Homo sapiens: one gene and its partners. The protein of the gene in region 1 interacts with the protein of each later gene in a pairwise test. Each region holds a gene or a part of one and is shown in the gene's direction. Other genes may lie near its edges. The genes, in order: NME7, ARHGAP9, ZNF343, SHTN1, THAP10, PROSER3 and ISY1-RAB43.

The links.
Region 2: the proteins of NME7 (region 1) and ARHGAP9 interact in binary tests that used the Homo sapiens proteins (3 or more experiments, as listed by UniProt).
Region 3: the proteins of NME7 (region 1) and ZNF343 interact in binary tests that used the Homo sapiens proteins (3 or more experiments, as listed by UniProt).
Region 4: the proteins of NME7 (region 1) and SHTN1 interact in binary tests that used the Homo sapiens proteins (3 or more experiments, as listed by UniProt).
Region 5: the proteins of NME7 (region 1) and THAP10 interact in binary tests that used the Homo sapiens proteins (3 or more experiments, as listed by UniProt).
Region 6: the proteins of NME7 (region 1) and PROSER3 interact in binary tests that used the Homo sapiens proteins (3 or more experiments, as listed by UniProt).
Region 7: the proteins of NME7 (region 1) and ISY1-RAB43 interact in binary tests that used the Homo sapiens proteins (3 or more experiments, as listed by UniProt).

The regions. Positions count from the first base shown.
Region 1 is NC_000001.11:169,322,369-169,326,623, reverse strand, and holds part of NME7 (nucleoside diphosphate kinase homolog 7), read left to right. Parts: intron 1-2,123; coding exon 2,124-2,231; intron 2,232-3,340; coding exon 3,341-3,507; intron 3,508-4,255. UniProt on the Homo sapiens protein: Possesses an intrinsic kinase activity. Displays 3'-5' exonuclease activity with a preference for single-stranded DNA. Does not seem to have nucleoside diphosphate kinase activity.
Region 2 is NC_000012.12:57,473,563-57,476,866, reverse strand, and holds part of ARHGAP9 (rho GTPase-activating protein 9), read left to right. Parts: exon of another isoform or gene 1-215; coding exon 216-277; intron 278-412; coding exon 413-503; intron 504-700; coding exon 701-796; intron 797-935; coding exon 936-1,034; coding exon of another isoform or gene 1,035-1,091; intron 1,092-1,251; coding exon 1,252-1,384; intron 1,385-1,468; coding exon 1,469-1,576; intron 1,577-1,893; coding exon 1,894-1,992; intron 1,993-2,163; coding exon 2,164-2,241; intron 2,242-2,390; coding exon 2,391-2,444; intron 2,445-2,690; coding exon 2,691-2,825; intron 2,826-3,158; coding exon 3,159-3,264; intron 3,265-3,304. UniProt on the Homo sapiens protein: GTPase activator for the Rho-type GTPases by converting them to an inactive GDP-bound state. Has a substantial GAP activity toward CDC42 and RAC1 and less toward RHOA. Has a role in regulating adhesion of hematopoietic cells to the extracellular matrix.
Region 3 is NC_000020.11:2,491,625-2,495,879, reverse strand, and holds part of ZNF343 (zinc finger protein 343), read left to right. Parts: intron 1-355; exon of another isoform or gene 356-465; intron 466-1,835; 5' UTR 1,836-1,984; coding exon 1,985-2,102; exon of another isoform or gene 2,103-2,129; coding exon of another isoform or gene 2,130-2,187; intron 2,188-2,302; coding exon 2,303-2,361; intron 2,362-3,054; coding exon 3,055-3,181; intron 3,182-3,795; coding exon of another isoform or gene 3,796-3,848; exon of another isoform or gene 3,849-4,031; intron 4,032-4,255. UniProt on the Homo sapiens protein: May be involved in transcriptional regulation.
Region 4 is NC_000010.11:116,928,240-116,932,494, reverse strand, and holds part of SHTN1 (shootin-1), read left to right. Parts: intron 1-2,492; coding exon 2,493-2,646; intron 2,647-4,255. UniProt on the Homo sapiens protein: Involved in the generation of internal asymmetric signals required for neuronal polarization and neurite outgrowth.
Region 5 is NC_000015.10:70,885,934-70,889,433, reverse strand, and holds part of THAP10 (THAP domain-containing protein 10), read left to right. Parts: intron 1-3,500.
Region 6 is NC_000019.10:35,760,680-35,764,934, forward strand, and holds part of PROSER3 (proline and serine-rich protein 3), read left to right. Parts: intron 1-1,339; coding exon 1,340-1,467; intron 1,468-1,573; coding exon 1,574-1,677; intron 1,678-4,174; coding exon 4,175-4,255.
Region 7 is NC_000003.12:129,091,515-129,095,769, reverse strand, and holds part of ISY1-RAB43 (ISY1-RAB43 protein), read left to right. Parts: intron 1-600; coding exon 601-745; coding exon of another isoform or gene 746-784; intron 785-3,176; coding exon of another isoform or gene 3,177-3,256; exon of another isoform or gene 3,257-3,270; intron 3,271-4,255. Other genes in the region: RAB43 (ras-related protein Rab-43), read left to right, coding at 601-784. UniProt on the Homo sapiens protein: Component of the spliceosome C complex required for the selective processing of microRNAs during embryonic stem cell differentiation. Required for the biogenesis of all miRNAs from the pri-miR-17-92 primary transcript except miR-92a.

The DNA.
Region 1 (4,255 bases):
AGCTTGGGAGTTCGTTTCCAAAAGCTCTACTGAACAAGCACAGGTTTCAGCTCACTTTTGTACCTGTTTCTCTGTCCCTTGGTGGGCTCCCTCTACCAGCTTCTTAGGCTTCTCAGTCACTTGTCTGCTTGACTTGAGACTCAGCACATGTCTTACGAGTAAAGACAACGCAATGAATGTTGGTTTCACTTCAATGGGCTTCCTGTCTTTCTGGATCTTGGATCCTCAGATCCTGGCTGCCTTAAAAGCTCTCCAAATCTTTGATATCCTACTTTTCTAGTTGTTCTTAGAAGTAGCATTGGTTTGCTGTGAGCTACTTTGTCATAGCCAGAAGCAACAGTTCCTCAGTTTATTTTCTTTGTATTAAAACTCTTTTCTGGATAGAGTATAGTGCAAAATTCTGCTGCCCAATTCAGAATTAAAGAGTGTGGTTGGCAGGTTTGGTGGATAGGCTACATGGATAAATGGAAGTACCAGGTTTCGTGGATTTTTCATTTGCTTTAGTTAGATGTGTCATTTCTTCTATTTTATATTTATTTTAGTGAAGGCAACATTTCAATTATGTATTTAAATAAATATTTTATTATGGATAGTAAAAATTTTAATAATCTACTAATATTTAAATTTTTATTTGTAGGTGAGTACAATACTAGAATGCACAGTGAAACCTAAACTCAAAAAAGCTGTATTGTTATAATCAATATGAAAAATATATATGATGAAAGGCTTTTACAAATGTCATAGTATGTCTCTTATTTTACATTTATTTTCTCTTGAGTAATCAGCATGGTTTAAATATGTCTTTGGATGATTGTGGGAAAAATAAAAGTGTCTTAAAAATAAAAGTGTCATCTACGTTATAGTTTATGGATATATTATAAACATCATTAGACACACAACTTCTACCATTAGAATTTATAAGTCAATTATTAACTTAAAAAGAACCCCCAAATTTTCCCTAACCAGAGCATCAGATGGCAAATCCAGAATTAGCAATAAAACTCCTAGATTCCCTTCTTCCCTATGCTTTTATTTGCTTATTATAATGAAGATCTTTGGGGCGAGGGTATTTTTACTAACATATATGATGGGAAGTCCTGCTCAATAGTCAAGGGAAAAGGACCCATCTTTGACTTATTTTTTTCATTTTTTGCTCTCTGTGGTAGCCCTAAGAGTGTACTTCACAGACCTCCAACTACAGGCAACCTAAGTGACCAAGGGTCCCAGCTGCTGTTCTCTGAAATCCACTGCTGCTTTTGTGCTGAGCACTTGCTTCCCAAAGGCTGCTCCCAGCCACTGATTGAGAGGAGCAGGGATACTAAAGCTGGCCCCTCCCTGTCCTTGGGAGTCACCTGGCTCTAGCACTTCCTGATGGGCTTACAGAACCTTTCTTAGAGGGTGTAGCAATGTGGGATGATTCCACTTAACCTTCCTTGCATCTCTCCACCACTCTGTGTCAAACTTCTATTGTTTTTATCGGCTTTTCTAGTCTTCCTTGGCTCCCTCATCATTTTATATTACGGGAATTTTCCTTAATGAAATTCTTGTATGTTCAATCTTGTCTTCACATTCATTTTCAGAGGTCCTAGACTAACACATTCTCTATTTCTATAAAAAGATACTATCATATGAAATTACTAAGGAAAAAAAAATGTTTGCTATAATTTTAATGGTAATATTCTGATACTACTAGATTCTCAAATTTAGGGAAGTCAAAACTTCATATAATTGAGAGCTCTCCTCAGAAATTTATTCTTATATTAGTTTATTGATAGTCTGTATGTAAACTTGCTTTCAGAAGGACTGAATTGTTACAATAGTAAAATCAGGAGCTCATGTTCTCAGAAAACGTTAATTTACTCAGGATGATTAGATGGCTGTAAAGTAAAAAGCAATCCATAAGTCATCTTTGAGATATCTAAGGGTATTTAGTGAGAAATTGAAAGGAAATATTGCTGAGGGTGTGTTGATAACTGATACTTTGTTGAAAAGCAGAAACATTCAATATAATAGGTAGAAGTAATTTTGTTTCTTGCATATTGGTAATTTCATTTTGTGTGACTTACAGAAGAGTGCTTGTTCTTTATATGTTAGTGTTAAAATTCTTCTGTCTTTCTTTGCAGAATCATAGTGAAAGATTCGTTTTCATTGCAGAGTGGTATGATCCAAATGCTTCACTTCTTCGACGTTATGAGCTTTTATTTTACCCAGGGGATGGATCTGTTGAAATGGTAAATAAGCCTTTCTTTGCTTGAATGTTGGCAAAGGGGGTGAACATGGGAACCATTGCCTTTTATATAATTGCTTTTTAAAAACACATTTATATGTATGTGTGTGTGTATATATACATATGGAAATTCTTTTTAAACTTATTCATTATAATTCCAATATAAGAAGTTAACTTGTGCCTTTATTTTTAATGTCAAAAATAGGAATTTTTTGTTGTTGTTGTTAGAAGACTGAAGTGGGGGCTGGGCGCGGTGCCTCATGCCTGTAATCCCAGCACTTTGGGAGGCCGACCCAGGCAGATTACTTGAAGTCAGGAGTTCGAGACTAGCCTGGCCAACATGGTGAAAACCCATCTCTACTAAAGATACAAAAAATTAGCCGGGTGTGGTGGCACATGCCTGTAATCCCAGCTACTCGGGAGGCTGAGGCAGGAGAATAGCTTGAACTCAGGAGGTGGAGGTGGCAGTGAGCTGAGATCACGCCACTGCACTCCTGCCTGTCCTGCCTGGGCGACTGCATGAGACTCTTGTCTCAAAAAAAAAAAAAAAAAAAAAAAAAAGACTGAAATGGGATTATTCATGTTTTGGATAAGAAATAAACAAGTGATTATAGATAAGGATTATTATGGTCATAAATACGTCCTCATTATTGAAAGCTGTTATTGCTACAAAAAGTCAAATTGAAGAGGCTCAAGCTAAGAGACTTCTGTTTCTTTGTGTTCTTTCACTGGCAACACAATTTTAACAAGTAGATCTTTTTGGTATTGGGATTTTGTGTACACAAGAAAGCAGAAATTTGGGTGTATGACTCTTTCTTTAGCATTTTGTAAGGACTACTTTGCTGAAATGATTTGGTAATAAACAAATCTTTCTATTCAGGTTTTTAAGAGTATTAAATTTGTAATAAGAAGCTTTTATGTTATTACCAGATTGGATTAGGAAATATGGAAGTTATTAAAAATTATGATTTATATTTGTAACAAAAAAGAAACAGAATATAACCTATCTTTGATAAGACAGAATTAAGAATTATTTCTACCTTATGATGAGATTAACTTTCCTTATTCATAACTTTTTTTGTTTGTTTGTTATATTGTTGTGTCTGGTTCTAGCATGATGTAAAGAATCATCGCACCTTTTTAAAGCGGACCAAATATGATAACCTGCACTTGGAAGATTTATTTATAGGCAACAAAGTGAATGTCTTTTCTCGACAACTGGTATTAATTGACTATGGGGATCAATATACAGCTCGCCAGCTGGGCAGTAGGAAAGAAAAGTAAGAAAACAATTATATAATCTTTTTACATGCTCTAACTTTGGGTTCAAAGTCAATCTGAATCAAGACTGGGAGTATGTAACCATATGAGGATGGATAGGACCTGGAAAATGGTTGTCTTCATTCTTTTTCTTTTTTTCAATTTAAAAAAAAATTGATAATACCATAGTTGTGCATGTCTCATCTGACTTAATTCATGTTTATGTCTCCTGTGGCACTTAGCACATCTCCATCCACATTGCAAGCACCTTGTCTGTATTAGCTGAACGAATTAATGAATCACAATTTAAAATCTATGATCTATTCTTTCCTTTTTCCACTTTCTCCCTGTTTTCAAATGATGATCTTTGATCTAGTTGACCAGGAGGTTTTTGCCTAGATTGTTTGTAACTAATGCTGCCTATTGTCAAGTTTTGTTAACAGATATATATATATATATTTATATCTAATAGATGTTGACCAACGGATCAATTGAAAAATGACAATGTGAGTGTTGTAAAAAGGAAAAAAAAAAGAAACCATATAAAGAAATTATGATACAGGGAGACTGATGTATCTTATTCATAACTGTATCCCTAAAAACTGTTGTAGTGATACCTCAAACAGTAAATTATTCACAGAGTGTGACCCACAAAAGTTTGTTAAATATATGAATGAATAAATTTATGTCATCGAAATGTCTGGAGGTACGGTATGTCTAAAGGAAGAGTTTCCCACTGGCTGGCATCCCCGCCTCCCTATCTTCCTC
Region 2 (3,304 bases), on another chromosome or scaffold:
ATCTCCCATTTCTTTGTGAAGGCCAAGATCCTCCCTGCCCCCCCTCCCCCCTTTTCCTGCTCCACATAAACATCTTCCTCTTTCTGAATATCCTCCTACCCAGCCCTCCCCCAGCAACTTTAAGGGACTTCACTCCTGGGAGACCCCCTAGGGAAAGCCGTGGCCACTATGGAGGGCGAGGGTGACTTACAGATCCCATTCCCTCCACTTCCCAGGAGGTGGAAAAGTCGGGTCTGCTCAACATGACCAAGATTGCCCAAGGGGGGCGCAAGCTCAGGTGAGAACCCAGAATACAGCTAGGGCCTGGGCTGTCAACTCCATAGGGTAGAGCAGGGTGTTGGAAGAGCACCCTCCTCGTGTCATTCTAGAATGACCTGTTCGCTACCACTACCTCCCCTCTCTGTCCCCGCAGGAAGAACTGGGGCCCGTCTTGGGTGGTGTTAACGGGTAACAGCCTGGTGTTCTACCGAGAGCCACCGCCGACAGCGCCCTCCTCAGGCTGGGTGAGTGTGAGCGAGAGGCGCAGGATGGGTGCGGGCGCTGCCTACCGCCTCACGCCAATGTGGGGGCGGCAGCGGGGAGGGCGGTGCAGAGGAAAGTAAAGAAGTGAGGAAGCCTCCCACCTCCTCACAGCCCACCGGGGAGAGGGAAGCAGTGAAGGAAACAACACCGTGGCCTCAGTTTCCTCCCTCATTGTCAGGGACCAGCGGGTAGCCGGCCCGAAAGTAGCGTGGACCTGCGCGGGGCGGCCCTGGCGCACGGCCGCCACCTGTCCAGCCGCCGCAACGTCCTGCACGTGAGCGCCCTCCCGCGCGTCCCCAAGGCCCCACCCGACCCGAGGGCGCCCCCAATCTCCCGCGCAGGCCTCCCGCTAGGTCTCCCTGCTTATTATACTCCTTCCCGTTGACCCGAGCGTTTCCTTGCCTGGCCCTCAGATCCGCACGATCCCTGGCCACGAGTTCCTGCTGCAGTCGGACCACGAGACAGAGCTGCGAGCCTGGCACCGCGCGCTGCGGACTGTCATCGAGCGGCTGGTTAGATGGGTGGAGGCCCGGAGGGAGGCTCCGACCGGCCGGGACCAAGGGAGTGGGGTAGGAACGATAGGAGTCAGGAGCAGTTGGGGGCAGGGTGGGCTCAGTGGAGAGCCCTTGCCTGGGCCGGGATGTGGGACCCCGGCAGTGGGTCAGAGTCCAGCTAGGGATACAGATTTCTCTCCTCTCTCACCTTCGACACGGCCCGCCCCGGGTCTAGGATCGGGAGAACCCCCTGGAGCTGCGTCTGTCGGGCTCTGGACCCGCGGAGCTGAGCGCCGGGGAGGACGAAGAAGAGGAGTCGGAGCTGGTGTCCAAGCCGCTGCTGCGCCTCAGCAGCCGCCGGAGCTCCAGTGAGGCGCGGGCTGGGGAGGGAGAGTCCGGGAGCGCAGCGAGGCTCCCGGGCGCTCACGCCCCGCTCTACCTGCCTCCTGCAGTTCGGGGGCCCGAAGGCACCGAGCAGAACCGCGTGCGCAACAAACTAAAGCGGCTCATCGCGAAGAGACCGCCCTTACAAAGCCTGCAGGAGCGGGGTCTGCTCCGAGGTGAGGGGGCTGGGCCAGGTTCATGGATAAGAAAACTCCAGCGAGGCTCAGAGTAGAGCTTCCCAGAACTAGACCACAACCTTCTGTGACTGCTGCTTTCCCACTACCCCAGATTGTTTAGGGGAGAAGCTGGGGTGACCTGTACCCCTTTGCCAGATTGTTTGAAGCAGGGGAAGGGAGGTGGAGTGTATTTCCTTGCCCAGGCCTGGCACAGGCAGCCAGGAGGACCAGCCTCACTTAAGGATAAAGACCTATGCTGAGAAGAGCTCCTGTGAGTGACGCTGGCACTGGCTTCCCGCCTCACTCTACTTCCCCAGACCAGGTGTTCGGCTGCCAGTTGGAATCACTCTGCCAGCGGGAAGGAGACACGGTGCCCAGCTTTTTGCGGCTCTGCATTGCTGCTGTGGATAAAAGAGGTCATTTTCTCAGAGACCCCAGAATCCTCTTCCAACAGGCTAAGGCCTAGAATTTTCTGCCTCCCCCATTCTACCTAGTCTTCCTACTGCCCTTTTTCTCTCCACCCTTATATCCCTCACCACACACACTTTCAAGCAGCAGTCCTTATCTACTCCTTCCTCATCTCCCAGGTCTAGATGTGGATGGCATTTATCGGGTGAGCGGGAACTTGGCAGTGGTCCAGAAGCTTCGCTTTCTGGTGGACAGAGGTGAGAAGGCTTGTGGGCCAGTGGTTGTACTAAGAATGTCTTGCCTGAGAACCATGGGCGGTCCTACATGAGGAAGCTGGCAGAATAGAGAGGCCGTCAGGCTGGAAGTGTATGTCTTAGCTCCTGATCTCTCCTCATTCATGTTGCAGAGCGTGCGGTCACCTCCGATGGGAGGTATGTGTTCCCAGAACAGCCAGGACAAGGTACTTACATGGAAGACCCTTCAGATCCCTAAAACTTCCACATATCCTCTTTGCTTCCCGTGGAAACCCCCATGTACTATTCCTGGGAGGGTTGTCCTCATCCCCACCTTAGCTACCTTGCCCCACTGCAGACCCTCTAGGCATTCCTATAGTCTGCTTTGACTGGATTTCTCCAGAACTTCTAATCTCTCAGTCTCTAAATCTTTCTGGCCCTTCATGAGCCCCTATACCTCCTTCTCCCTCCAGAAGGTCGGTTAGATTTGGACAGTACTGAGTGGGATGACATTCATGTGGTCACCGGAGCCCTGAAGCTTTTTCTCCGGGAGCTGCCCCAGCCTCTGGTGCCACCACTGCTGCTGCCCCATTTCCGTGCTGCCCTTGGTAAGGGTTGGAGCTTTGGAAAGAACCCTTGATGTGGGGGACACGGGTGGTAAATAATAGAATAGAGGTTCCCTTATACTCTTCTTTCCCATTCTGACTTTAGAGATGGAAAATAATGTTCAACTCAGGTGCCTACTCCAGTTGCTTTTTTGTGAATGTTTAGAGGGCTGAATTGAAAAGAATTATGAGGCTATAGTTGGGCTATGTGAAAAAGAAAGCTGTGCTAGATTAATGATGTCTTCCATGCCTGTGGGAAAGAGCAGTGCATTTACCCATCCTGTCCTAGCACCTTCCCTAACCTTACTACCATGCCTTTCCCATCACTCTCTCTAGCACTCTCCGAATCAGAGCAGTGCCTCTCTCAGATACAAGAATTAATAGGCTCAATGCCAAAGCCCAACCATGACACTCTACGGTACCTCCTGGAGCATTTATGCAGGTCAGGAAGACAGAACCTCTTTGTTCATGCTGGGGAAAGG
Region 3 (4,255 bases), on another chromosome or scaffold:
TGAAACCCCATCTCTACTAAAAATTCAAACAATTAGCTGGATGTGGTGGCAGGTGCCTGTAATCCCAGGTACTTGGGAGGCTGAGGCAAAAGAATCACTTGAACCTGGGAGGCAGAGGTTGCGGTGAGCCAAGATTGCACCACTGCACTCCAGCCTGGGCAACAGGGTGAGACTCTGTCTCAAAAAAAAAAAAAAGAAAAAAGAAAAAAAAAAGTCTGCACTTAGTACAGATCTTGCTTTATAACTGTTAGCTACAGATACTAGTGTTACTAGGAGAAAGGCTTTGTCAGCTTCAGCTACGTTATACTGCAGGTACTATAGGTTGGCTTTAGCTTTGTACCATGACTTTTTACAGTAGAACCACAGTCCCTCTTCGGACATGCTGTTCTCAGAACAAAAGAAATGGTGGAATTATGCAATGCTTAGAAATGGCATCGTCGCTTTCACTCACATTCATTTTCCAAGGCAAGTTACAAGGTCAAGCCTGATGTCTGGGACAGGGAAGTACCATCCTTTTATAGGGCAACAAATAATTGGGAACGATGATAAAATCTACCACAAAGGCCTCTTTTATTCTAATCACTAGAATTATATTAGCAAAAAGACTGAGAAGCATTTCATCTTACAAGAAGCTTCACAGTTTAGTAAAGACAGTCACGTAAATAGAGAAATTGCAATATGGTATGATGGCCAGGTTGGACAGAAGAGGGAGTGGTCATCTCTACCTATGGTGTTGAGGGATGAATTACAAGAGCTGCTTAGAGACCCCAGCTAGTCTCAGAAGGGTACTAGGCAACAATAGGCCTGTAGCCATTTGGGCTGAAATCCTGGACAGCGTCTGAGGAGCTTTTGAAGGTGGCATAGCTCCTAATACCACCTGCCTTCTTTGGGACCACATCAGTGTAGGACTTTGACTTGGGCCCATCAGGATACACAAATGCACATCTGTGGTAAGGTCATGTGGTAGACATGCATAGCAATGGAAGCTAGGAGGTTATCTCTTCAGAGTAATTGTGAGAACTGGAGCTCTCCCTTAACTAAGAAGGACTGAGTTTTGATCTCCTAAACTCCTCACAATACAGGGACATAGGGATTTTTTTTTTTTTTCTTGAGACAGGGTCTTACTCCTGCCGTCCAGGCTAGAGTGCAATGGCATGATCTCAGCTCACTGCAGCCTCGACTTCCCGAGGTCAGGTGATCCTCCCACCTCAGCCTGCTGAGTAGCTGGGACTACAGGCGCACACCACCATGCCCAGCTGATTTTTGTATTTTTTGTAGAGACGGCATTTCGCTATGTTGCCCAGACTGGTCTTGAGCTCCTGAGCTTAAGTGATTAGCTTGCCGTGGCCTCCCAAAGTACTGAGATTACAGGTGTGAACCACTGTGCCCATCCAAGACACAAGGAACTGAATATAGATGGAACCTTGGGTTGGGGCAGGGGAATCAGAAGCTGAGTTCTGCACGCCCCAGTTGGTCTACAGGAAACAGTCAGAGGCTCTTTCTCCACAGGCATTATGCTATATTCTGTCTTCTCTCTGACTCAGGCTTCAGGTAGTAGCAGAGACTGATCCAAAACATAGAGTTTGAATCTGAGGTGCAGAGGCAGAAGAAGTAAAGTTTGAGAGCTAAGGGAGAGTGGCAGAACACAAGCAGGAGGGCCTAGAAATGAAGGTAGAGTGAATGAAGGTAGAAAATCCAGGGATCCCATGTAGATGGAGACTCCGTGTTTGTTGAATGAGGAGGGTGTGAGAGGACAGGATCCCTGTTGAAGAGGCATAGGCCTAGGGCCCACAATAAAAGCCCCAGCAATAGCAAATTGCTTCTTCATCCCACAGGTCCTGGCTGCAGGGAAACAAGCTGGGCTTTTTATAATTAAGGTTGGAAGAAGTCACCACAGGCAGCAGAACTCCATCTTGAGATGAAATAACATCTACCTGGACCTCTGGCAGAATTTCAAGGCACACACTGGGCTGACTCTGGCGCCATGATGTTGCCTTATCCTTCAGCACTGGGAGATCAATACTGGGAAGAGATTTTGCTTCCAAAGAATGGGGAAAATGTAGAGACTATGAAGAAATTGACCCAAAATCATAAAGCGAAAGGTGAGAATTGTTGAGGGAGCCGGAGGGATGAAGAGGAAGCCAAGGCTCCAGGTTCACCTGAAAATGCTTCAGAGGTCACCTCTGAGTTAAGTGACTACTTCCTTCATCCTAAGGCTCAGAAGAGCTGCTCAGGGAGCGTCATGGTGGGGGGTGGGGGGTGGGGGGGTCTGGTTTCTCATAGCTTCTTTTTCTTTCCCTAGGCTTGCCTTCTAATGATACTGACTGCCCCCAGAAAAAGGAGGGAAAGGCCCAAATAGTGGTGAGTTGGGGTTACATTTTTTTTTTTTCCTGAAGTGCTGGCTCATTTTCCAGAGAATAGACATATATTCTCTTTCTTGGGAAAGGAAAAGGCGGTCAACATCTGGGTAGATGAGTGAAGCATTAGGCTTTCTTGAAAAAAGTTGTCAAAGCACATAGCAAAGACAGGGATTTTACAGATCCCATTTAGTAACCTGAGCTTTTAAAAAATGCTCATTCCAGACCCCATCTGTTCACTCCCATTTTTCTCTGTAATCCAAGTTTTCTTCCATTCTCTCCTCTAAATCTTTACCACTCCCTACTGCCCAGCACAAGCCCCAAGTCCATGATGCTTTTGTTCCTTCTGCAGCCCATTCTCTGCTGTTTCATCTCTGAATTCCTTCATTATGAATCCTCAAAGTCACTGTCTTAAACACAGCCTGAGGTTTACAAATTAATTCACAAATCATTTCTCCGGTGAAATCATATATGTCAAGGGCCTAGAATGTGTTCTGTGCTCAGTTATGCTCCTCACAGGTTTTAACAGAAAGCCAGGCAGACAGTAGTGCTCAGAAGAACTTCATATGGAGAACCATATATTCTGACGAATTACATCAACTTGCATATCCAGGCTCTCCAGGGTCACCAGCTGTGCTCCACACACAGGGAAGATTGATGGTGGCTTGCTATACATTAATTTACTGGTTGTTTGTAGGTACCAGTTACATTCAGGGATGTGACTGTGATCTTCACAGAAGCAGAATGGAAGAGACTGAGTCCAGAGCAGAGGAATCTATACAAAGAAGTGATGCTGGAGAATTACAGGAATCTTCTCTCATTGGGTAAGGCTGTGTTCTTTCCTTTCCTTCATTAATTCAGTAGAGATTTACTGATCACCTAATATGTACCACAAAAAAATGTTCTAGATACTTACAACACATTAGTAAACAAAATCGTAATCCCTGCCTCCATGGGGCTTACTTTCTAGTGTAAGGAGACAGACAACAAACAAAAAGCCTCATATACAGGGATATTATAATATGGTATGTTAAAAGGTGATAAGTGCAACATAGTAAAAAATAATGAAATAAGGCAGGATAAAGGGGTATTGGGTGTGATAGGGTGGCTGGCTGAAGTTTAAAACTGGGTATTTGAAATCAGTGAAGAAGTAATATTTGTCTAAAGACATAATGTGGTGAGGAGGTTAGAACTGTAGGTATCTAGTGTAAGAGCATTTCAGGTGAAGGGAATTATTGACACGAAGACCTTAATGAAGGGATGTACCTGCCCAGTATATGAAGCTGCAAGGAGGCAAGCAAGGCTGGGGGCATGGTTTGCAAGGGGGAGAGATGCAGCTCTGTGACATAAGTTAAAATTAAGAGTCAAGTTTATTGTGGTTTGGGGGTTTCATAAACTATGTTTTTTTCTTTTTCATTTGTTTACAAACCTAAACGAGGTCAGGAGATCGAGACCATCCTGGCCAACATAGTGAAATCCCATCTCTACTAAAAATACAAAAATTAGCTGAGCATGGTGGCATGTGCCTGTAATCTCAGCTACTTGGGAGCCTGAGGCAGGAGAATCACTTGAACCAGGGAGTCAGAGGTTGCAGTGAGCCGAGATTGTGCCGTTGCACTCCAGCCTGGTGACAGAGTGAAACTCAGTCTGAAAAAATAAAAAAAAATAAAAAAATATTTAAATCTGGGTTGATAAATGTTATCAATTGCAACATAACTCTAGATCAGGGGTTGGCCAACTTTTTCTGTAAAGGGCCAAACAATAACTGTTTTTACAGGTGATAAGCCCTCTGTAACAACCCTTAACTTGCCATTGAGTTGCAGCCATAAACAGTATGTGAACGGATGAGCATTGATATGTTCCAATAAAACTTTCTTTATAGACACTGAAATTTGAAT
Region 4 (4,255 bases), on another chromosome or scaffold:
TTTCCATGGACTGGGGAGGGAAGAGGGTGGGGGATGGTTTTGGGATGAAACTGTACCACCTCAGATCATCAGGCATTAGATTATCATAAAGAGCGGCCAACCTGGATCCCTCGCGTGTGCAGTTCACAATAGGGTTCGCGGTTCTGTGACAGTCTGTTGCCGCTGCTGATCTGACGAGGTGGAGCTCAGGCGGTAATGCTTGCTCGTGCCTGCTGCTAACCTTCTGTGCAGCCTGGTTCCTAACAGGCCATGGACCAGTACCAGTCCAAGACCTGGGGGTTGGGGAACCCTGCTCTAGAGTATCAGTTATTTACTCGCATGATCATGTGACTGATTGGGAGCTGTGGCTGGCTGCCGCTGCAGAGGATTGTTGAGAGAGTATCTTATTACATATTGCGAGCCTGGGAAAAGATCAAAATCCAGAATTTGAAGTATGGTTTGTATTGAATGCATGTCGCTTTCACACCATTGTAAAGTCGAAAAACTATCTCAAACCATCCTAAATTGGGGACCATCTGTATGTCGCTTAAAATGTTTCTTAGCTGTCTGTAAGTTCCCTTGCAGATGCAGCAGTCTTTTAAGCACAGCATATGGTTTTTGCAATTATAAAAATAGCATATGCTCCTTATAATACATTTTTAAAATACAGCAAAAGTTAAAGAAGATTAACCAAGTATCCCATATTTTGGTGCATAGCTGAACTTTCTGTAAATATATACCTTTATAAATATAGTTTGTTTAAATTGAATCATACTATGCATACTATTTTATGCCTTGATTTTTTTTCCATTGGTAATATATCTTCTCATGTCAGTATATAGTAAGCTATGTGATTTAAAAGTTGCATAGTATTTCATTGAATAAACATGCTATAATTTATTAAACTAAAAATATTGGTGGACATTTAGGTTATTTGCAACTTTTTGCTGTTGTAAAGAATACTTCAGGCCAGGTGTGGTGGCTCACGCCTGTAATCTCAGCACCTTGGGAGGCCAAAGCAGGTGGATCACTTAAGGCCAGGAGTTCGAAACCAGCCTGGCCAATGTGGTGAAACCCTGTCTCTACTAAAAATACAAAAATTAGCCGGGTGTGGTGACATGTGCCTGTAGCCCCAGCTACTCAGGAGGCTGAAGCACAAGAATTGTTTGAACCCAGGAGGCGAAGTTTGCAGTGAGCCCAGATCGCGCCACTGCACTCCAGCCTGGCCGAAAGAGTGAGACTCTATCTCAGAACAAAAACAAAAACAAAAACGAAACAAAACAAAAAACCACTTCAGTGAATATATTTCAGAGTATTTTAAAAAATAATTTCTAAAAATGGTTTTACTGAATCGAAAGCCTTTCCTTTTTTTTTTTTTTTGAAGACTTTTGATACTTATTACTAAATTTGTGTCCCCCAGGAGTCTTTTAAAATATTACCTGAATTTTTCTTTTGAAAATGGGTACAAAAGTGACCCATGTTTAAAAATTAAAGTGTCTGTGTGACTAACAAGCATATAAAAAATGCTTAACATCACTAATCATTAGAGAAATGAAAATCAAAACCACAATGAGATACCATCTCATGTCAGTCAGAATAGCTGTTACTAAAAAGTCAAAAAATAGCAGATGTTGGCAAGGTTTCAGAGAAATGGGACGCTTAAACACTGCTGGTGGGAATGTAAGTTAGTTCAGCCATTATGGAAGGCAGTGTGGCGATTTCTCAAAGAACTTAACACAGAAATACCATTCAACCCAACAGTCCCATTATTGGATATATGCCCAAAGGAATATAAATCATTCTACCATAAAGACACGTGCACACATATTCATCGCAGCACTATATGCAACAGCAAAGTCATGGAGTCAACCTCAATGCCCATCCGTGGTAGACTGGATAAAGAAAATCTGGTACATATTACACCATGGAATACGGTGTAGCCATAAAAAGGAATGAGATAATGTCCTTTGTAGCAACATGAATGGAACTGGAGGCCATAATCCTAAGTGAACTAACATGGGAATAGAAAACCAAATGTTCTCACTTCTAAGTGGGAGCTAAGCATTGATTACACACGGACACAAAGAAGGGAACAACAGACACTGGGGCTTACTTGATGATGGAGGGTGGGAGGAGAGAGAGGATCGAAAAAGTATCTATCAGGTACTATTCTTTTTACCTTGGTGATGAAACAACCTGTACACCAAGCCCCTGTGACACACAATTTACCTATATAACAACCATGCACATGTACCCCGAACCTAAAATAAAACTTAAAAAAAATTAAAGTGTCTGGTACGTAACTCCCCAGTAAATTTATTTTAAATCAGCTCTTTAGCTGATTTATGATTGTGTGTTAATTGTATCTAGCATTTGCATGGTTGTTAAGATGGATTGGAATCTGTTTGCTATGAAGTACAGTCAAAGGGAAATATTTATTTTTTCCCTTTCTTTTCTTTGACAAAGGAAAAACTGTCAGCCATAAAAGTCTTTTTTTTTTAAATAACTTATAGGTCAAAGAATTAGAAGAGCAACTAGAAAATGAAACACTCCACAAAGAAATACACAACCTCAAACAGCAACTGGAGCTTCTAGAGGAAGATAAAAAGGAATTGGAATTGAAATATCAGAATTCTGAAGAGAAAGCCAGAAATTTAAAGCACTCTGGTAAAAGCATTGAGTAGGCTACTATGTCTTACTATTAATCTTTGAATTACTCATGCCTAGTACAAAACCTGGCATATAGTTAGTCTAGAACATTTACTGAATGCTGTGGAAAAATACCAAGATTTGTTTTGAAATTCCTTAATTTCTAACCATTGCAATTCAGTAGAATAGCTGCTGTATTAAATAATTCAAAAATATTTAGACTAATTTTTTGGACTTAGAGCCCTTGTGAACATCATATACAGAATTTAGACACAGAGATACCGTTAGCCTAGGAAGACCAACTTTTCAGCATTTTTCAGAGCTTCAGAGATGAATGTTCATTATGTACTTTATTTTGTTCACTTAGAGTGCATTTTTAGAAAGAATTAAACTTTTTAAAAATACTGTCTTCATCTTTGGTGTTCATACTACCTTCATCTTTGGTGTCTAATAATACACATGAAATAATACTTTCTATATTGTACCTAACAATGAACTGGGCAACAATATATCTATTAAATGGAAAATCTTTAGAAACACCAGGGGATACTTAAATCAAAAGATTTATTCATTCAGTTCTAGAAGGCTTAACGGGAATGTGCGAGTTAGATTACTATACGGGCATATGTGTAAGTCTCTGTTGGAAGGTCGGTAATTTAAGAAGTCAGGTACATTCCCTTTATAATAGCTTCAATATTCACTTCAGATATTTTTGGTTAATTTTATACTAGAATTTTGAAACCTATGCAGAAGAACCATGTAGGCCTTTTTTCCTTCTAAAAGCATTCAGTGCTTTCTAATCCACAATGAAAATTGATTATAATTTATTTTTTAATTGATCCAAAATTAAGAAGTATTTCATTCTTTTTAGTGAATATCAGAGTAGCCTGTAGCCAAAGCCATCTTTATTATGAATAGAGGAGGCAGACACTGGAAATATATAAGGTTCAAATCTGAATGCCTTCTATTAATACTTATTATCTGCTGTGTGTGTACCCAGCCCTATCCTAGGAAACAATAAGAAATACAGAAGAAAAGAAACCATGCTTTTTGTCTTCAGAGAACTCAGATTCCCCTTGGAGGGATAGGTGCATGCACATAAAAAGACTAGAGGATTCTCAGTTTTGGAGAGCATAGCCCACACTGCCTATTTAAGTGTTGAGGGTAAATACAAATGGACAGATCCCTGAGGGTACACTCAGTCGGGGAAAGTGGAATGGCTGTGGATGGGGAGAGCTACCTCTGAGTGCCAACAGTATGCAGCACCTTTTACCCATTATCTCATAGGTATTAGCACCTGTGATATCAACTTAAGTTCAGTTCTTTGAAGTCAGGTGTTACGTCTCCTGTAGCACCATTCATAGGCACTTTCACATCATTGGTGCTTAGTAAAATGCCTTCCTCATGAAAGACTTGAAGGAATACGATACATTTCCAGAAATCTCTTCAAAAGAGCAAAAAGTTTCTGAGTTACAGATTTAGGAAGCTGAATCTGGTTAAAATCAAAGACTCTAGTATTTGCAGTTTTTGAAGGAAATTAAGCAGGGGAGAGAAGTATGCAGCTATTAAATTTCATTACTAAATGTCATCTTTAAAATTAATTCTTGGTCTGTACACTTTTAAAGTA
Region 5 (3,500 bases), on another chromosome or scaffold:
GTCCCTATATCACCCCATATCCAGCCCCTCCCCTCTCCTCAAAGGTAACCAAGTTTGCTTTTTTTTGGGGGGGGGATTTCATATAAATCAAATCATACTGTAGCCATTTTCTGTGTCTGGCTTCTTTTGTTCAACATTACATTTTTGAGATTCATCCATATTGTTGCATAGAACAGTAGTTCATTTTCATTATTATGTAGTATTCCATTGTATGAATATACCAAAATTTGTCTGTCTATTGTTGAACATTTGGGTTTTTACCCATTGGGGCTATCATAAGTGATACTACCATAAACTCTTGTATATGTGTTTTGGTCCACGTGTGCACACATTTCTGAGGATATATACCTAGAATTGCTGGGTCATAGTATTACATTAAACTTCAGTAGATAATACCAAATAGTTTTCTAAAATACTTGTACCAATTTACACTTCTACCACAAGTTTGATAGTTTCCATTGTTCCACATTCTTGCCTATACGTGGGATTTCTAGTCTTTCACATCTGAGTCCATTTGCAGAGTGCGTAGTAATGTTTTTGCTTTTCATCCCCCGATTACTGATGAAATTAGTAAGGAAACACCTTTTCAAATATTAATTGGATATTTAGGTAGCCTTCAGTGACATGCCCTTTTAAATCTAGCCCATTTTTCTGTTGGATTGTCTGTCTTTTCTTGTTGATTTAGAATTTTTAATAGATTCTACCTGGAAGTCCTTTTTCAGTTAAATGTTTTTATCTTCTCCCACTATGGGTTGCCTCTTGGTTCTTAATAATGTCTTTTGATGTACTGAAGTTCTTAATTCTGATGTAGTCCAAATTACCAATAATTTTCCTTATTCTTAATACTTAAAACATTTTACTATGCTGTTTGTAATAAACTTTGTTGTTTTTACTTTTTATATTTAGATCTAATTCAGAATTGATTTTTGTGTTTGGTGTGAGGTAGGATTTAAGTTTCATTTTCCCCAACATTGATACCCATTTGACTCAGCATCTTTTATTGAAACTACTAGCATTTCTTCTTGGCCTTGCAATGTCAACTTTGTCATAAATCAAGTGCCCTTTATATGCATAGGTCTGTTTCCACATACTTTATTCTGTTTCACTTATCTGTTTGCCTAAGCAAAAGTATCACAGTGTCTTATATAGCTTTATTAAGAATATTCAATTGATTAATACCTCTTACCTTGTTCATGTTTGTGGATATTTTGACTATGTTGGGCTCTTTAGATTTCTAGATACATTTCAGAATTGATTTGTCAATTTTCACAAGTTACTCACGAGGATTTTGATTATGACTCCATGGAATTCATAAATGAATATGGGAATAAATGGCATATTGACAATATTGACTCTTCTAATCCATGAACATATATCTCCATTTATTTGGGTTTTTAAATTTTTCTTAGAAGTGTTTTGTGGCATTTGATGTAGAGGTCTTACATATCTTTCATTAGATTTATTCACAGCTATTTGATTTTGCTACTATAAATGGTATTTTAAATTTTATAATCTATAAGTGCATATTGATAAATTAATTTTTGTTGAACTTGTATCCAAAAACCTTGTTAAACTCACTTATTAATTTCAATAGTTTATAAATTCTCTTGAATTTTATACATGTACAAAAATATCATCTGAGAAAAGCGTTTGATATTCGTGTTTTTATTTCGTATTCTTCCTGTTGCACTGGCTTGAATGTCCAGTACAGTGTGGGAACAGAAGAGGTGAGGGGAATCCTTTTCTCATTCCTAATTTCAGAGGGAAAGCCTTTAATATTTCCCCATTTGATTATGATTTTTACTATAGTTTTTTATAGCTCTCTTTGTAATAAAAAGAAATGTTCCCCTTTATTTCTAGTTTAGATTATAAATAATGGTGAATTTTATCAAATGGTTGTTCTGAATCTATTAAGGATAACATTTTTATTATGTTAATATAGTAAATTATATTGATTGGTTTTAAAATGTAGAGTCAAACTTGCATGGCTAAAATAAACTCAATTTGGTCAAAGTGTTTTATTCCTTTCTCATATTGCTTAATAAAATATTAGCTAAAATAAAATATTTAGGATTTTTGTATCTGTGTGCACGAGTGAAACTGTTCTACAGTTTTTTTCTTTCTTGGAATGCCTTTCTCAGGTTTGGTATGAAGATTATGCCAACAGATTTGGAATTGTTCCTTCTTTTTTCATTCTCTGGAAATGTTTATATAAAATGGCATATATCCATTAATAAATTTGGTATTAATATTTGGTAGAACTCATTGATAAGACAGGAGTTTTCCTTTTGGAAAGGTTTTTTATGATGGATTCAATTTCTTTGTTATAAGGTTATTCAGAGTTCTTTTGTTTATCCATTTTGATAAATAGTATTTTGTTTATCCATTTTGATTAATAGTATTTTTTAATTTGTCTGTTCCATCTAAATTTTTAAATGTATTGACACAAAACCTTCATGATAATCTTGTATTTGAAAAAAATTCTGTTTGAGCTGAGGTAATTTTTGCTTTTTCATTTTTTCTTGATCAGCTTCACCAGATGGTTTATCGATTTTTTTTTTTCTTTTTTAGACAGAGGCTCACTCTGTCACACAGGCTGGAGTGCAGTGGCGCAATCTCAGCTCACTACAACCTCTGCCACCCGGGTTCAAGCGATTCTCCTGTCTCAGCCTCCCGAGTAGCTGGGATTACAGGTGCCTGCCACCGCACCCAGCTAATTTTTGTATTTTTAGTAGTGATGGGGTTTCACCATCTTGGCCAGGCTGGTCTTGAACTCCTGACCTCGTGACCCACCTGCCTTAGCCTCCCAAAGTGCTGGGATTACAGGCGTGAGCCACCGCACCCCACCGGTTTATCAATTTTTATTAGTCTTTCCAAAGAACAAACTTTGCCTTGTTGATCTCTCTAGAATTTTTTTTTCATTTATTTCACTTATTCATTATTCCCTTCCTCTGCTTTTTAAAATTTTGTCCACTGCTCTGTCTTTAACTTCTTAAGAAGTTAAATTATATCATTGATTTTCAGAATTTTTATGGTGAATGTTAAATGGTGCAGCTAAGTTTCACAAGCTTATTTCACAAATGTAGAATTCAGTAAAGTGGTGTTGATAGAGGAAAATCTGGGTCCTGAGAGGGGGCTATGTTAGAGATATTTTGTGGAATACCTTTTGCATGATATTAATAATTCTAACCTAAATTAAGCCCAATTAATTTTCCTATCCTAATATATGCATTAAAGATTATAAGTCCCCACCTAACATGGCTTTACTGAATCTTACAAGTTTTAGGTATGCAGTATTTTTATTATTTAGTATAAAATATCTAATTTCCATTGTGATTTTATCTTTTATTCGTGGGTTAATTAGAAGTATATTTTTTAATTCCCGTATCTCTGGGCATTTTTTAGTTAAATTTTTGCAATAGATTTCTAGGTCAATTACACTACTGCCAGAGAAAATGCAATATATGGACTTAATTTTTTGAAATTTGTTGAAACTTGTA
Region 6 (4,255 bases), on another chromosome or scaffold:
TTTCACCATGTTGGCCAGGCTGGTCTCAAACTCCTGACCTCAGGTGATCCACCTGCCTCAGCCTCCCAAAGTTCTGGGATTACAGGTGTGAGCCACTGCCAGGCCTAAATTGGGCATATTAATAGTACACATCCCCTAGGGCTGTTTTGAGCTTTCAGTGAGTTACTATATATAATGATCTCTAGCAGTGCTTCTCACATAGTCACCACTTAGATTTGTAGAATACAGGTTCAGCTGCTGTAACAAAGAGTCCCAAATTAATTATGGCTGAAACAAGATAGAATTTATTCCTCCCTCACCTGCAGTCCAGGCAGAAGCCACCAGGGATGATGTGGCAACCCGTAGTTGAGGTGTCAGGGACACAGGTTACTTCTGTCTTGTTGCTGTCCGAACTCTAGGCCGTTGCCCTTTCCTTCATGGTGCAAAATGGCTTTCAACCACATCAGCTTTCCAAAATCACATTTCATACCCTGTTTGTCAAGAACTTAGTCACGTGGTCACAAGGCTACAAGGGTACCTGGTAAATATAGTCCATAGGAGACTGGCTGTGTGCCCAGCTAAAAGTTACATTCCTGGCTGGGCACAGTGACTCATTCCTGTAATCCCAGCACTTTGGGAAGCCAAAGTGGCAGGATCCCTTAAGCCCAGGAGTTCCTGACCAGCCTGGGCAACATGGCAAGACCCCGTTTCTACTAAAAATACAAAAATTGGCAGGGCTGCAGTGGCTCACGCCTGTAATTCCAGCACTTTGGGAGGCCAAAGTGGGTGGATCACCTGAGATCAGGAGTTTGAGACCAGCCTGACCAACATGGTGAAACTCCGTCTCTACCAAATTAGCCGGGCGTGGTGGTGCATGCCTGTAATCCCAGTGACTTGGGAGGCTGAGGCAGAAGAATCACTTGAACCAGGAGGCAGAGGTTGCAGTGAGCCAAGATCACGCCATTGCACTCTAACCTGGGCAACAAGAGCAAAACTCCGTCTCAAAAAATAAACTAATTAATTACAAATAAATAAATAAATAAAAATACAAAAAGTAGCCGAGTGTGGTGGCATGCACCTGTGTCCCAGCTACCCAGGAGGCTGAGGAGAGAGGATTTCTTGAGCCCAGGAGTTGGGGGCTGCAGTGAGCTATGATTGCACCACTGCCCTCCAGCCTGGGTGACAGAGCGAGACCCTGTCTCAAAAACAGTTATGTGACTATATAAGAAAGAAAAGCAGATATTGAGGGATAGCTACCAGGCTCTGCCATGGTGCTTGGTAAACGTTGGCTGCTATAATTATTCTTATTATTATTTGGCTCTCCTCACTCCACTCACCTCCTATCCCCTGATGTTCACAGGTATATAAACAGGTTCCGCCAGGCTCAGCCCACCAGTCGAGAGGAGCGCCAGCCTGCAGGCCCAACCCCAGCTGACTTTTGGTGGCTGCAGTCTGACTCTCCAGACCCCAGCAGTCAAAGTGCAGCAGGTACCTCTTTCAGTGCCATCCACTACTCCCACCCCTAAACCTTTGCTGATCAATGCCCCCAGCAGCCACTCCTCCTGGCCCTCATACCTCAACTGGGGCTTCTCAGCAGGAGCCAACAAACCAGAAGGAAGACCCCATACAGCTGTCCCTACTGCGGTCAACGTGACCAGTGCATCCCATGCTGTGGCTCCCCTTCAGGAAATAAAGCAGGTGACATCCCCATTCACTCCCTCCCTTGGGTGCCTGAACTGACAACACCAGCCCTAGGACAGAATTAGAAGATCAGGAGCAGTGGCTCACACCTGTAATCCCAGCACTTTGGGAGGCCAAGGTGAGAGGACTGCTTGAGGCCAGGAGTTCAAGACCAGCTTGGGTGACATGGTGAGATTCTGCCTCTACTAAAAAAAAAAAAAAAAAGAGAGAGAGAGAGAGAACCAGGTGTGGTGGTATGTACCTGTAATCCCAGCTACTTGAGAGCCTGAGGCTGGAGGATGGCTTGAGCCTAGGAGTTCAAGGCTGCTGTGAGCTATGATCATGCCACTGCACTCCAGCCTGGGCAGTAGAGCAAGACCCTGTCTCTATTTAAAAAAAAAAAAAAAAAAAAAGCCTGGGCACCGTGGCTCATGCCTATAATCCCAGCACTTTGGTAGGCTGAGGCAGGCAGATCACGAGGTCAGGAGTTCAGGACCAGCCTGACCAACATGGTGAAACCCCGTCTCTACTAAAAATACAAAAATTAGCCGGGCGTGGTGGTACACACCTGTAATCCCAGCTACTCAGGAGCCTGAGGCAGGAGAATTGCTTGAACCCGGGAGACGGAGGTTGCAGTGAGCCAAGATAGCGCCAGCGCACTCCAGCCTGGCGACAGCAAGACTCCATCTCAAAAAAAAAAAAAAAAGAATTAGAGCTGATCCCCATTTCAAGGAAGCTAAAACAGAAAAGGAGGATTTGCTGGCTAATGTAATTGAGAAATCCAAAAGTAGATGTTTCCAGATATGCCTGGATCCAGGTGTTTGAATAATGTTGGGAGAGACCCAACTCTCTCTGGGCTCCATGCCCCCCCTTTTTTTTTTGATACAGAGTCTTGCTCTGTCACCCAGGCTGGGGTACAGTGGCGCCATCTCAGCTCACTGCAACCTCCGCCTCTCGGGGTCAAGCAATTCTTCTGCCTCAGCCTCCTGAGTAGCTGGGACTACAGGTGCATGCCACCACACCCAGCTAATTTTTTTGTATTTTTTTAGTAGAGATGGGATTTCACCGTGTTGCCCAGGCTTGTCTCGAACTCCTGACCTCCGGCAATCCGCCCACCTCAGCCTCCCAAAGTGCTAGGATTATAGGCGTGAACCACCAAGCCCGGCCTTTTTTTTTTTTTTTTGAGACGGAGTCTTGTGCTGTCATCCAGGCTGGAGTGCAGTGGCGCGATCTCGGCTCACTGCAAACCCCGCCTCCCAGGTTCACGCCATTCTCCTGCCTCAGCCTCCCGAGTAGCTGGGACTACAGGTGCCTGCCACCACGCCCGGCTAATTTTTTTTTGTATTTTTAGTAGAGATGGGGTTTCACCATGTTAGCCAGGATGGTCTCCATCTCCTGACCTTGTGATCCACCCACCTCGGCCTCCCAAAGTGCTAGGATTACAGGCATGAGCCACCGCGCCCGGCCTTCTTTTTTTTTTTTTTTAATTAGATAGGGTCTTACTCTTAGGCTGGAGTGCAGTGGCACAATCATGGCTCACTGCAGCCTTGAACTCTTTGCAACCTTCGCCTCCTGAGTACCTGGGACTACAGCATGCGCCACCATGCCCAGCTAATTTTTTGGTTTTTTTGTAGAGATGGGATCTTACTTTGTTGTCGAGGCTGGTCTCGAAGTCCTGGGCTCAAGCAATCTTCCTGCCTCGGCCTCCTAAAGTGCTGGGATTGCAGGCGTGAGCCACCACGCCCGCCTCTGTGCTTCTCTTTTTTTGGGCTCAGTCCCAGGCGGGCTTTCCCCTCACAATAGCCAGGATGGTCCTTGGGGTCTCTAGGCTCCCATGGTCCTGGCTCAGTGACTCCAGTGGGAAGTGGGGGCTTTTCGAATTGCTCCATCAGAAGCCCCAGGGCTCACTGTGATTCACTCATCCTTGAGCCAACCACTGTGAACCAGAGGATAGAATGCTCTGATGAAGCAGCTCTGATCTGGGAGGTGGGATCCATCCTCCTCCAACCATGATTTGTCCATGAAAGGTGCTAATCCACCGGGCGCGGTGGCTCACGCCTGTAATCCCAGCACTTTAGGAGACTGAGGTGGGCGGATCACCTGAGGTCGCGAGTTTGAGACCAGCCTGACCAACATGGAGAAGCCCTGTCTCTACTAAAAATACAAAATTAGCCGAGCGTGGTGGCGCATGCCTGTAATCCCAGGTACTTGGGAGGCTGAGGCAGGAGAATTGCTTGAACCCAGGAGATGGAGGTTGCTGTGAGCCGAGATCGTGCCATTGCACTCCAGCCTGGGCAACAAGTGAAATTCAATCTCAAAAAAAAAAAGAAAAAAAAAAAGGTGCTAATCCAAAGGGGAAAACTGGGTCTCTCCTCCCTGAGGAGGAGGAGCAGATCCTAAGCTGGCATGTGAGGTTACCAAGGGCAGTACAACCTGCATTCCAGGCCCTCTGTTTAGAACCCCCTTCCCAGCAGCCTTTGGGTTGGGGCTGGCGTCTGACCCTGTCACCCTGCAGAACCTCCACACATGGAACTCATCCCTGCTGGACCTGGAGACGCTGAGCCTACAGAGCAGAGCTGCCAGGCTGCTCAAACGC
Region 7 (4,255 bases), on another chromosome or scaffold:
AGCTCCTTGCTTTGGCCAAGCTGGGTCAGCTGGTGGAAACTGCCTTGTACTTAAAGGCCCCATGGGAGGACTCTGCCCATTGCCACCACCAGTCACCCTTCCCACAGTCCTCATCACCAAGCTGTAGAGTCCTGAGGGAACCCTAATGCTGGAGGAGCCTCACACACAGCTGGGTACGTGATGCTCTTGTAGGGGAGGGTACCTGGCCGTGCCTACTGCTGGCCGTGCAGTGCACCTGGAGCCAGCTTTCCAGCCGCCGGCCGCTTGAGCACTGGTGGTTCTGTTTTCGCAGCAGTGGGCCCAGTCCTGAGGGGAGAGGGGCACACGGAGGGGCACGCGGAGGACCTGGGTCAGCTCAGAGTGTACCCCTTCCTCCATCTTTCCCTGGGGACCCTAGAGGGCCAGGACAGGGGCTGCTCACCTTCCCTTTGCTTCCCCATTTTTCCAACAAGGTTGAGCCATTGAGTTGCTTTCTAAGGACTCAGAAGGCCTCCTAGCCCAGTGGAACCACAGCTCTGGGTGTGGGTCTGTGGGGTCACTCTGCCTGTCCCCATGTTCAGCCTGTGCCACTGGGTTCACTGAGGAACCTTATTTCTTTAGCTGCAGATCTGGGACACGGCCGGCCAGGAGCGGTTCCGCACCATCACCCAGAGCTACTACCGCAGTGCCAATGGGGCCATCCTTGCCTACGACATCACCAAGAGGAGCTCCTTCCTGTCGGTGCCTCACTGGATTGAGGATGTGAGGAAGTATGCGGGCTCCAACATTGTGCAGCTGCTGATCGGTGAGTTGGGGATTCCTCGGGACCACAAATCCCATCACTCTGCCTGTCCATGCCTCCCTCTGCTTTTTAAACACAGTGTAACCCTGAGTTCAGAGGGAGTCCCAGCCAGAGTTTGAGCCATGGTTTTGCAAATCCTGATCCTGCTAATCACTTAGAAAGTTACATTCAAGGCCGGGCACGGTGGCTCACGCCTGTAGTCCCAGCACTTTGGGAGGCTGAGGCGGGCGGATCACAAGGTCAGGAGATCGAGATCATCCTGGCTAACACAGTGAAACCTCGTCTCTACTAAAAAAATAAAAAAAAATTAGCCGGTTGTGGTGGCAGGCGCCTGTAGTCCCAGCTGCTGGGGAGGCTGAGGCAGGAGAATGGCATGAACCTGGGAGGCGGAGCTTGCAGTGAGCTGAGATCACGCCACTGCACTCCAACCTGGGTGACAGAGCAAGATTCGTCTCAAAAAAAAAAAAAAAAAAAAAAAAAAAAGAAAGTTATATTCAAAATTGGAATTAGAGGAAAGAAGAAAGAGAGCTGAAGTTTGCTCTGCTGTTCTTCACATGTGTCAAGATTTAGCTCTTGTACCCCGGCTTCTCCTCATTTGACAGGGGCTGGGGCTAGGCTCAGAAAAGTGCAGTGATTTATCCGGGTCCACATGGCCTGTGAGCATACACATGTAGGCTTTGAGTTTGCTTCTGCTGACCTCAAGTCTGTGGCTTTCTCTGTTGTGCCGCACACAGAGCAGGGACACTTGATGGCTTCCGTGCCTCAGAATCCCACAGAAGTCTTCTTCAAGTGCAGCTGCAGGGCCTCAACCTCCAGAGCATCTGATCCAGGCGGGCTGGGTGGGGCCCATGAATGTGCGTTTCTAACAAATTCCCAAGTGACACCCACCTTGCTGGTCCAAGGATCCCACTTTGAGAACTGCTGCTGTGGAAGGATGCTGTTTACCTTTGTTTTCCTTCTATATAACCTTCCCAGACCTGGACTGGAGAAGCTCTTTAGCTCTTATGTTATCCCTGGGGTCCTCACCCCAACAGGTTGATTCTTTTTTTTGAGACAGAGTCTTACTCAGTCACCCAGGCTGGAGTGCCGTGGCGTGATCTTGGTTCTGCAAGATCTGCAAAACCACTGCAACCTCTGTCTCCCTGGTTCAAGCGATTCTCCTGCTTCAGCCTCCCGAGTAGCTGGGCCAACAGGTTGATTCTTCTGACTCAAATGTACAGACAGGGCCTGGACCTGACTCCAGCCAGGAAGAGGGTGGTGCCTGGTTCCATGTGGCCTGCCTTCCACAGCCTGTTCAGACTAGGACATGGAGTGCTTGGCATGAACAGAGCTTTCCTCACGTAGCCTAACCATTTCCCCACCTTTTCTTGCTGGGGGTGGGGGACGGAGTCTCGCTCTGTCGCCAGGCTGGAGTGCAGTGGCACGATCTTGGCTTACTGCAACCTCCGCCTCCCGGGTTCAAGCAATTCTCCTGCCTCAGCCTCCTGAGTAGCTGGGACTACAGGCACGCACCACCACACCTGGCTAACTTTTGTATTTTTAGTAGAGACTGGGTTTCACCATGTTGGCCAGGATGGTCTCGATCTCCTGACCTCGTGATCCACCCGTCTCGACCTCTAAAAGTGCTGGGATTACAGGTGTGAGCCACCACACCCAGCCACCAATTCCCATTTATCCAGGACATTTCTGAAAAACATTCCAGCCTGGCATGGTGGCTCACACCTGTAATCCTAACACTGAGAGGCTGAGGTGGGTGGATTGCCTGAGTTCAGGAGTTCAAGACCAGCCTGGGCAACATGGTGAAACCCCATCTCTACTAAAAATACAAAAATTAGCCAGGCATGGTGGCACACACCTGTAATCCCAGCTACTGCGGAGGCCAAGGTAGGAGAATCGCTTGAACCTGGGAGGCGGAGATTGTAGTGAGCCGAGATCGTGCCACTGTCCTCCAGCCTATGCGACAGAGTAAGACTCTGTCTTCCAAAAAATAATTAATTAAAAAACATTCTATTATAGAACTTTTTTTTTTTTTTGAGACAGAGTCTCACCCTGTCGCCCAGACTGGAGTGCAGTGGCGCGATCTCGGCTCATGGCAAGCTCTGCCTCCTGGGTTCACACCATTCTCCTGCCTCAGCCTCCCGAGTAGCTGGGACCACAGGCGCCCGCCACCATGCCTGGCTAATTTTTTGTATTTTTAGTAGAGACGGGGTTTCACCATGTTAGCCAGGATGGTCTCGATTTCCTGACCTCGTGATCCACCCGCCTCAGCCTCCCAAAGTGCTGGGATTACAGGCGTGAGCCACCGCGCCCGGCCTATAGAACATTTTATACAGCTATGAAAATAGTATTTTATCTATTTATTTATGCATACTTATATACATACATATATTTTTAGAGATGCAGTCCTGCTATGTTGCCCAGGCTGATCTTGAACTCCTGGCCTCAAGCAATCCTCCTGCCTCAACCTCCAAGTAGTTGGAATTACAGGTGTGAGCCACTATATCTGGCTTAGAATAGTATAATAATGAGCCCCCAGGTACCCATTACCCTGCTTCAGCAATTAGCAACTGAAGTCCAACCTCCTCTCATCTGTACCATGTCACCTCCCCTCCCTCGGATTATTGAGACAAATTCACATCAAACCATTTCACCTGGCAGTATTCCAGCATGAACCTACAAAATATTTAAACACTTAAAAACAGCAATATTATTTTCTCATCTAAAAATACTGACATTTCCTTAATAATATAAAATAGCCAGTCTGTATTCAGATTTATAATTGCCCATAAAATTCATATGTGTTTTATTTTTTCCAGTTTGTTGAGATCAGGATCCAAATAAGTTTCACACTTTGAAACTGGTTGCTACATCAATTAAGGTTACCAAGGAAATTTTAGATCTTTACAGACTTTTTTTTTTTTTTTTTTTTTATGACGGAGTTTCGCTCTTGTTGCCCAGGCTGGAGTACAGTGGCACAATCTCGGCTCACTGCAACCTCCGCTTGCCACTCCTGCCTCAGGCACCCGAGTAGCTGGGATTACAGGCCCCCGCCACCACGCCTAGCTAATTTTTTGTATTTTTTTTAAGTAGAGACGGGGTTTCATCATGTTGGCCAGGCTGGTCTTGAACTTCCAACCTCAGGTGATCCACCCACCTCGGCCTTCCCAAATGCTGGGATTACAAGCATGAGCCACTGCGCTTGGCCCAGACTCTTTTTTTTTTTGTCTTCCTTATAACCACATTACAAAAGTCAACCATGTAGAGACTTTTAAAAAATTATTCTAGAAATTGGGTCAAGGAGCAATTTAACAGATTGTTTGGAATGTAATGAAGTCATCTCATACCATCTAGGAGGATCTGGGTAAATTGAGACGGGGTCTCACTGTGTTGCCCAGGCTGGTCTTGAATTCCTGGGCTCAAGCAGTCTTCCTGCCTTAGCTTCCCAAAGTGTTGGGATTACAGGCGTGAGCCACT